3 separate regions of the Homo sapiens genome follow, and regions 1 and 3 are each linked to region 2. Evidence: fine-mapped QTL for protein levels in blood plasma. A gene starts in region 2. Each other region holds a variant in brackets. All regions are shown on one strand. Distances are between the middles of the regions.

Region 1 (2,766 bases), 21 kb after region 2:
TAAACAAAAATTGATGTGTAAAAAATACCACTGTATTTAAAAGGGATAAAACTAATCAGATAGTATTTTAAAGCTGATGTCTTGATGGCACAATTTTAAATTGAAGTGCTATGGGGGATATTGTCTTACTGGTATTTGCAGTTTGGGCTCAAAAAACCAGAAACTATATCTTTAAGGGTGTTTAACAGAATAATTCTAAATATTATAGTTTTCTCTTTCCTTTTTGTTGTCCTGTGATTTTAACTTTGACATTCTTATGTGACAATTGAAAAAGTCTCTTCACTTTTGTGTATTCTTTCTAATGTGATCAGGAGAATTAAAATGAACATTTTCTTTCATAAAGCTGAGAGTTAATTCTGAAACGTTGTACCAGAATACTTTTATGAATGAAAGACTAGCCTTTGAACCCTAGGAGAGTCAACTCTACACCAACCCTGTCTATTAAAAAAAGTCTGTGCTTACAGATGTCTTGTGTGAGATGTGGCTTTACCAAAAGTATCTGAACTTCAAATTTCTCCTATCACTGCCAACTACCCATGGGTATTGGCAATATATTTGGTAGACTTATTTCTTCTGTAGGCATATGATGCCATGGCCAAAGTGAACTCTACATTTTTAAGAGAGGCTGCTAAATATGGCCAATCACAACAGAAAACTAGCATTTCTCCAATTTGGCAGTGGTTTCTGGATGGCACACCCAGACTTACTTCCTTAAGCAATGCTGATATATGGAAATGCCATGATAGAGGCTCAGAAGCTAACACTGAATTCAGCAGTGCAGAAAAACTCCAAATCATGTGGTTCTTCTTTGTCAATATTTTCACTAAGGCAGCATAAGATATTAAATCACCTGGAATTAGTTATGTGCCATTTCAGCAACCTTTTGTGCTCAGTCTGCTACAAGCTGCTTGTGCTGATTAGCAGTTTAAAAGTCTGCAGGGGAAGGAAATTTTCAGTAGCTTGATTTTCCCCCACCCTTTGGTCCTGTGTGCATTGGGGAAGAAATTACCTTCTGTGCAATTCCTGAATAATTTGGTTTGATTATTAATAGATTCATGCTGAAAAAAGAACAATAACAGAAAAAAAATTACCCATGGGGTTGCAGCTGTGCTCCCAGATACAAAACAGGGAAAGAAAACAGGTCTCTCCAAGCAAAGGGTATATGTGTATACGTGTGTGTGCATGTGTAGCTCTGATTCTAAGAAGCCATTGGTTCATTTATTCATGCATCAAATATTTATTGAGCTGCGAACAAATCCCAGGCACTGTGAGGAAGACAGATTTCCTGCCCTCCCAGAGTTGCCATTACTAAGAATGTTAGCCAATAAATAAATCTTTACGGGAAAGAAACAAAGGACTGTGATAGAAAAAAATGGGAGGAGAAACTTACTTTAGAAAGGATTATCTGAGAAGGTGCCTTTCACGCTGAGCCAGAAAGGGAAGAAGGCAAACAGGAAAAGAGCCAGAAGAGCAGAGTTCCCAGCAGAGGGGAAGCAAGTGGAGAGGCGGTGTGGAGGAATCAATTTGGCCCCATCTGGAATGGACAGAAGGCTAGAACCTGCAGTGCAGTGAGTGTGGGAGAAACCAGCTGGCACAAGGTGAGCTTAGGGCAGATCACATAAGGCCTTGTAGGTCATGGACAACAATATGGATTTAAGTGCAGTATAGGAACTTCAAAGGAATTCCAACAGTTAAGCTAGTTGATGTAATTTGTGTCTATATGTATATATATTTATATA[T/A]ACAAACAAAACAAACCTTGGCTGTTGCATGCAGAGTAGATTGCAATGGAGAGGAGGACCAGTTGGTATTCCGCAAGGGAGATAAGAACAGCTTAGGCTTGAATGAGGATGTGATAAAGGGGATTTTATGAGCAAGGCTGTTTTATTATTTTATTTATTGTACTTCTATTAAGATGATATGGGTGCTTTGGGGGCTGTTGTAAATTATAACCCACAGCCCCTGCACAGGAAACCTCCACAGGAAACAATCAAAGAATAAGTGGTTGTGAGATGACAAGGTTTACGATACGTGTTTTCAGGCTTCTTAATAGCAGAGTGATTGGGTGATTTCCAAAAGACCTCAGGGCTGGGATGGGTGAAATTTTGTGAGCTTCTGGATTGGATGAGGGTGTGCTCTTGCAGAAAGAATTCCTGAATACTTTCTGCACTGACAGAACCTGCTTATTAATTCTTACAGCAGTTATGTTTTAGAAGATGAAAGACCCTTTCCATTCAATTATTGATCATAAGCATGATGTGTGTTGATTAAAATGGCATGATAATGGTATCAAATGGAGTTTGGATATCTTTTTCCTTAATATACTTTTGTGTATCATATTTAAGTTTCCTCAAGTCAGTAGAGAAGATGTTACCCACATCCTCTTTTCCAAAGAAGGAATCATTTGATCATTGAAAGGTTTACTGAATAGAAAATAAATTATGTTGACTTTAGCACAAATTCCTGCCCTAAGTTTTAGCCCATATATTGATGATGTCAAGTGCTGCTAAATGTGTTCTTCTTCTATAAAAATTAAAGTTTAAGCTTTGGATGCTAACTTTCAAATCTATGTGAAATGATATGATTTATTGTGATATAAAGAATGACATAAAGAACAAAATAATACTTTTTTAAATTTATGAGGAAAAAGACAACAGAAAGGAAAAATGGGCAAAGAAAGAGAACACGTTTCATGCAAATCAAAACCACAATGAGATACCATTTCGCACCGGTCAGAATGGTTATAATTGAAAAGTCAAAAAGTAGGCC
Region 2 (2,766 bases):
TTCTACTTTAGAAAACATGCCACGTGAATAATGATGCCTCAGGCAAAAGAAATCACTCCAGCAGTACAATTTAAACTTAGGACAAATCCTGCCCTCACTTGCATTCACAATTTGCCAAGGCAGTTGGTAAGAACTGTGCCCACACACAAATTGACAGAATCGAGGCCCCAAGGTTAGCGATGATTAAAATTTAAAAGTCCATTCATTCATTTTCAAAATATTTTATTCGATTGCTTCTGAGGCAGAATCATGAGTTGCCTTCGCTTTTGCTGCTCCCGGTGGTGGCATCCAACTCTGAGGATAGCTCATCCAACTCTGAGGGTAGCTCTGAGGGGAGCTAAATATCCTCATTGTTCAATGAGCTAGATGAAAACAAAACGAGGCTGTAAGGTCAATCTCACAGCCTTAGTGGAGTAAAAATTAGAAGTCAATAATTCTCTTACCAACAAAGAGGACTTGCATTCAACAGGATTTTCAAAAGTGGTATCCTGTAAAAATTTTGGAAAATACCACCATAATGGAAAAAAAATAAAGTGGCATATAAATCAAATGTAGTGCTAAAAATTATAATTTTTCCATATGAATTTTGGAATCCTAAAATATTTTTATGTGTTTGTGGATTCATAAGGCATCAGAACTGGCTTTTTGCACTGAATATGAGTACAGAAGGCTTTCCTCTCCAATAGTGAATTAATAAAGGATAAGTAGGAAAAACGTTACGAAACGATGTGGTAACATTATAGACTCTGTATTAGGGCAAAAATTGTGAGATAGTAGAAGATCTGTAAATTTAAGCATGCACAATTTGACAGCGGATGGTCGTAGCATATTTTGTAAATTCAATAGCAAGCCCCACCACGCCCTTAAATGAAGGAAAGCAAGAAGACAATTTTTAATACGTACATGGCACCACACCCCTCTAAGACGCAGCAATGGGAGAAAAGCAGATTGGCGACCTGTGTGTGCAACATGAACCGAGTGAAACCATCGGGGAGGGGGTGGGGGGCGTTTCTTTTAAATGTCGCTTTTGCAGATAAACGAGCAGGGATCCTACCTCTTTTGACCGGAGATGTTGAAAAGCACGACCAAAGTTTTTGGCTTGGTCTCTTGCTTTCCACAACGAGATAAAGTCTGAAGCCTGTAACTCTCCCTGTCCCGCGGGAGCGTGCAAAGGGAGGGAAGATAAGCGGCGTGGGTGAGGGGTGGCGGCGCAGAACCCAGGAAGGGAGCAGAGGCGAGAGCCAGCCTCCGGCAGGAGGGCGTAGACCCCGGTGCCAGCCAGAACGGCTCCAGCCTTCCCGCGGCCAGAGAGCCAGCGGCGGGAGGGGACGGGCGGGACCTCCGCGGACAGCCCCGGGTGCGGACCAGCGGGCAGCGGCCGGCGAGACCCTCCCTGGATCCGCCCAGAGCTTACCGGACCCTGCGCGCCCCCGTCCCGGCTCCCGGCCGGCTCGGGGGAGAAGGCGCCCGAGGGGAGGCGCCGGACAGATCGCGTTTCGGAGGCGGCGCAGGTGTGTCAGGGGTGGGGGTCCGCTGGCATCTCTCGTGCCGGCGCTGGGGGGGTCTCCCGTGGAGGAAGGGCTGAAGGTGCTCCGGGAGGGGTCCACTCGTTATGGAAAGGAAGCGGGGCGCGGTCAGGGTCCCTCGTCCGCAGTGGGGGTGGTCCGGGCCCCTCAGCCTGCACCCGGGAGGAGACGCCCCCTTTTCACGCCCCGCCCCCGGTGGCCGAGGCCGGATTCGGACAGCTCGGGGTCAGTCGACGGAGCACACCGGGCGCCCGAATCCGCCGGGTCCCACTCACGCCCGCCGGCCGCCGGTAGGTTGGCCCTCCCGCTTCCAGCCTCCGCCACCCCATCCCTCGCTGCTCTCTGAGGAGGATTCCAGACCCCCCCGTAGATCTCCGCCCTCTCTCGGGTGGGGCTCCGAGGTCTAGCTGGTCTGGGGGTCAGTCCCGGCCTCTGTCTCCCACCGCGCCCCTCGCTCCCCTGGACACCGCCTGGTGTGTGGGGCTCAGACCCCCCCAGTCCACTGCCCCTGTGTGGCTCCTCCTCTCAGGAGAGGATTCTAGATCCCAGCCCGGGGGGGGTTCCGAAAATGCCGCCAGCCTGGAGCGGGGAATCCATGGACCGTGGGGTTGTGGGGTTGGGGAGCACGAAAACCCAGAGAGGGGCTAGAGCTCCACCTCCCCAGACCGCCGAGGGGCGAGAGGGCGCGCCGGGGGCCGTGGTTGCCATGGCTCCTGGTAGCGGAGCCCGGGGGGCTGGAGATGCCGGTCGCGGATGGTCCCTTCTTCCTCTTTGTGCCTCTCTCTTTCTCTCGCTTTTTTTTTTTTTTTGGAGTGTGAGTGTGCGTGGGGAGGCAGCACGGAGAAAGTGATTAATTTGGGGAGCAGGGATTGGAGCCGGGAGGCTGGGGAAAGCCAGCCCCTCCGTTCCCACTCTCCGGGCTCGCTGCGAGCCACAGTGTCTCAGCCAGGGGCAGGGCCGGGGAACTCCTGCGAAAAACCACGGGCCGGAGGAGCAGCAGCCGCGCGGGCCCAGGTACCCCCGCCCCAGACGGCCAGCAGGGTGGAGCGCAGGGTGGGCGTTTGGGCTGCTGGGCGGGAAGGCGGGCGGGGAAGGGGTGGGAGGCCGGCGGCGGAGGGCAGGTGTGCGTCGGCAGGGCTGGGTGGCCCGGCAGAGAGGGCGCCCCAGGTTCAGCCCCTCCTCGAAGGGCGCCGGCGTCCAGTCCCGCTCGTGGGAGCCGCGGAGCAGCCCCAGGGCCGGC
Region 3 (2,766 bases), 25 kb before region 2:
GCTGTAAGGGTAGAATGTGAACTAGGCTGGGCTAATTGTATATAAAATCTGCCTTAAGTGTAGATAGTGTCAGCAATAAGAATTTGAACCACAATCAGATCAATCAGGGATTTCCCAAATTTTCTAATGGACTTAGCAAAAAGCCTAATGGACTTACTCTCATCTTTAAAATATGAACAATAATACATCCACTTCATAAAATTGCTTTGATTAGTAAAAGAGTATTAAAGAACTTGGAAATGTCCTGGCATGAAGTAATTTCTTATAGCTGAATACCTGCTGTTATTTTATTGGTATTACTATTGGTATCATCTTTTTTCATGGGTTGCTAAGATGGGAGAATATGGGTCTGTAGCTGAATATGGGTCTCTCGTCTTCTCACCTATTGCATGGGGAATGTCTGAACAAACAATGATAGCAAGCAAAAAAATATATATATATTTAAATATATATATAAAATTAGGAATGAAGAAAGAGACTGTAGCCAACAGATACTGCTGGTGCCTGTGGATCCAACCATGCCCAAAGGCCAGAACATACTATTGGAATCTCCAAATATATGATACAATAAATTTCCATTAAAATAGTGTGAGCCGAATTTTTTGTTATTTGCAATACAAATAGTATGATTGAATAATCTTTCCACTATACCATGTAGCCATCAAATGAGGAATTCCCTGGTAAAATTAATTAATTTGAATGACAAATTTGATCTTCAAGACTGAATTTTTCTGCATGTACATGTGTGGTATTTCTTTTGGGAGAATTATCCAAATAATTTTTTTTTTTTTTTTGAGATGGAGTCTCGTTCTGTCGCCCAGGCTGGAGGGCAGTGGCCCGATCTCGGCTCACTGCAAGCTCCGCCTCCTGGGTTCAAGTGATTCTCCTGCCTCAGCCTCCTGAGTAGCTGGGACTACAGGGGTGTGCCACCACATCTGGCTATTTTTTTGTATTTTTGGTAGAGATGGGGTTTCTTTCTTTCTTTCTTTCTTTCTTTCTTTCTTTCTTTCTTTCTTTCTTTCTTTCTTTCTTTCTTTCTTTTTTTTTTTTGAGACTGATTCTCGCTCTTGTTGCCCAGGCTGGAGTGCAATGGCACGATCTCGGCTCACTGCAACCTCTGCCTACTGGGTCCAAGCAATTCTCCTGCCTCAGTCTCCCAAGTAGCTGGGATTACAGGTGCCCACCACCACACCCAGCTAATTTTTGTATTGTTAGTAGAGACAGGGTTTCACCATACTGGCCAGGCTGGTCTTAAACACCTGACCTTGT[G/C]ATCTGCCTGCTTCAGCCTCCCAAAGTTCTGGGATTACAGGCGTGAGCCACCCCGCCTGGCCGATCATTTCTTAATTAAATGCTTGACCCTGTCTGCATAGCCATAATGAATTAAGAATGGAAATGATGCTGAAATAGAAGAAAATTTGGAATCATTACTATTGTTCCACCTAATTAGGACACTCATAACGACCAATGAAGAATCTGCAGTGATTTCATTAGAATGATTTGATATTCTAGATGTCCACACTCAGTGTAAACAAAGGAAACAGGAGCTTCTTTGCAAAAACACGCATAGGGGAGTAAGAAAGATACATAATTGCAAGTCTTAATATCTCTGGTCTAAGGATGAGGACGTAAGAGAGCTTTGGGTGTAAAATTATGATTTTTGTCTTCTGCATATTGCATAGCTTGGAATATTAAACAGTTGAAAATAAACTTTCATTTTACCTTTAGTTATTTGAGAATTTTAGAATAAAGTAAGTATGTTGAGAAGCTTCCTATGTGAACAATTTTCTTAATAATTTCTTCATAAAGTTTGCTATATTTTAGCTTGAATTTATGTTCATGAGAGGTATAAAAAATATTTACTATAAGTAATTTATATGTCAACAATACACCTTGTTTCACTTAGCATTCATACATGTTATGAATCTTTCGTTCAAACTTAATTTTACCAGGTAAATATATAAGAGATCTTTAAATAGTAATATTTATATTCCATATCTTTATTCAAGAATAATATTTTGCTCAACATACATATTTGTGTAATGCCAAAAATTTATTCTCCAAACATCTCTCATAATAATGCTTAATATGTAATACAATGTAATACTCAATATAAGACAGTCTCTAATAATCAATACTTAATATAATCCACAACAATAATAATCTGTTGGTGCCTGTACTATAAAAAGGTAATACTTAGAAAAGGTCAGTTAGCTAAATTTTCTCCAAAATTACAAAGTATTTGAAAATTAATTATTACAATATTACATGTCATAAAGTAAGTAAATAGCTATTTTTTCTAGTGATTTTTATTTTATTAAATAAGTGTGTATATACATATAACTGTGTATATTATATATATACATATATACACTTTATATACCTATACTTATTGGATTTATATACCTATATACTTACAGATATATAAAGTATATACTTATGTGTATATATGTATATATTTATATGTATGTACTTATGTGTATATCTGTATATATTTATATGTATATACTTATATACTTATTTATATTTATAAATAAGTGTGTGTATATATATATATACCTTATAAGTGTGTGTGTGTATATATACATACACCTCTATATATACATACACCTCTATATATAGAGAGAGAAAGGTGTATATATACTTATTAGGTATATGTATATACTACTTTTGTGGGTATATCTATACCTACAAAAATAAATGCAGAAATATGCCTCTGACTAGAATAGCTTGAGAGGTGTTGTGAAATATCACCTTGAACTAATTCTT

Which allele goes with the higher level. Alleles are on the strand shown, and positions count from the first base shown. The strength of an association depends on the size of the effect and on how common the allele is. Not every link is listed here.
For the plasma level of the protein whose gene starts at base 1,211 in region 2, allele G in region 3 goes with a lower level than allele C (moderate association).

What was found. A credible set is the group of variants that fine-mapping cannot tell apart. PIP is the chance, under the fine-mapping model, that this variant and not a neighbour inherited with it causes the effect. The UK Biobank Pharma Proteomics Project read protein levels with antibody pairs (Olink). The fine-mapping took linkage between variants from a reference panel, not from the people measured, so its PIPs are less certain.
Region 1: its variant is the best candidate, but not a certain one, in a credible set for the plasma level of the CHL1 protein (UK Biobank, PIP 0.85).
Region 3: its variant is the best candidate, but not a certain one, in a credible set for the plasma level of the CHL1 protein (UK Biobank, PIP 0.52).

The regions. Positions count from the first base shown.
Region 1 is chr3:216,103-218,868 of GRCh38, forward strand. All of the region lies in intron 1 of CHL1 (cell adhesion molecule L1 like), which reads left to right. Among named protein-coding and RNA genes, the nearest start is that of CHL1-AS2, 20 kb to the left of the region's middle. The variant T/A (reference allele first, on the strand shown) is at 1,740.
Region 2 is chr3:195,553-198,318 of GRCh38, forward strand. It overlaps CHL1 (cell adhesion molecule L1 like), which reads left to right and starts at 1,211. Exons shown (of 28, transcript NM_006614.4): 1 at 1,211-1,511. It overlaps CHL1-AS2 (CHL1 antisense RNA 2), which reads right to left and starts at 1,789. Exons shown (of 4, transcript NR_144487.1): 1 at 1,415-1,789; 2 at 904-956; 3 at 444-488; 4 at 206-362.
Region 3 is chr3:170,980-173,745 of GRCh38, forward strand. No RefSeq gene overlaps it. Among named protein-coding and RNA genes, the nearest start is that of CHL1, 24 kb to the right of the region's middle. The variant G/C (reference allele first, on the strand shown) is at 1,270.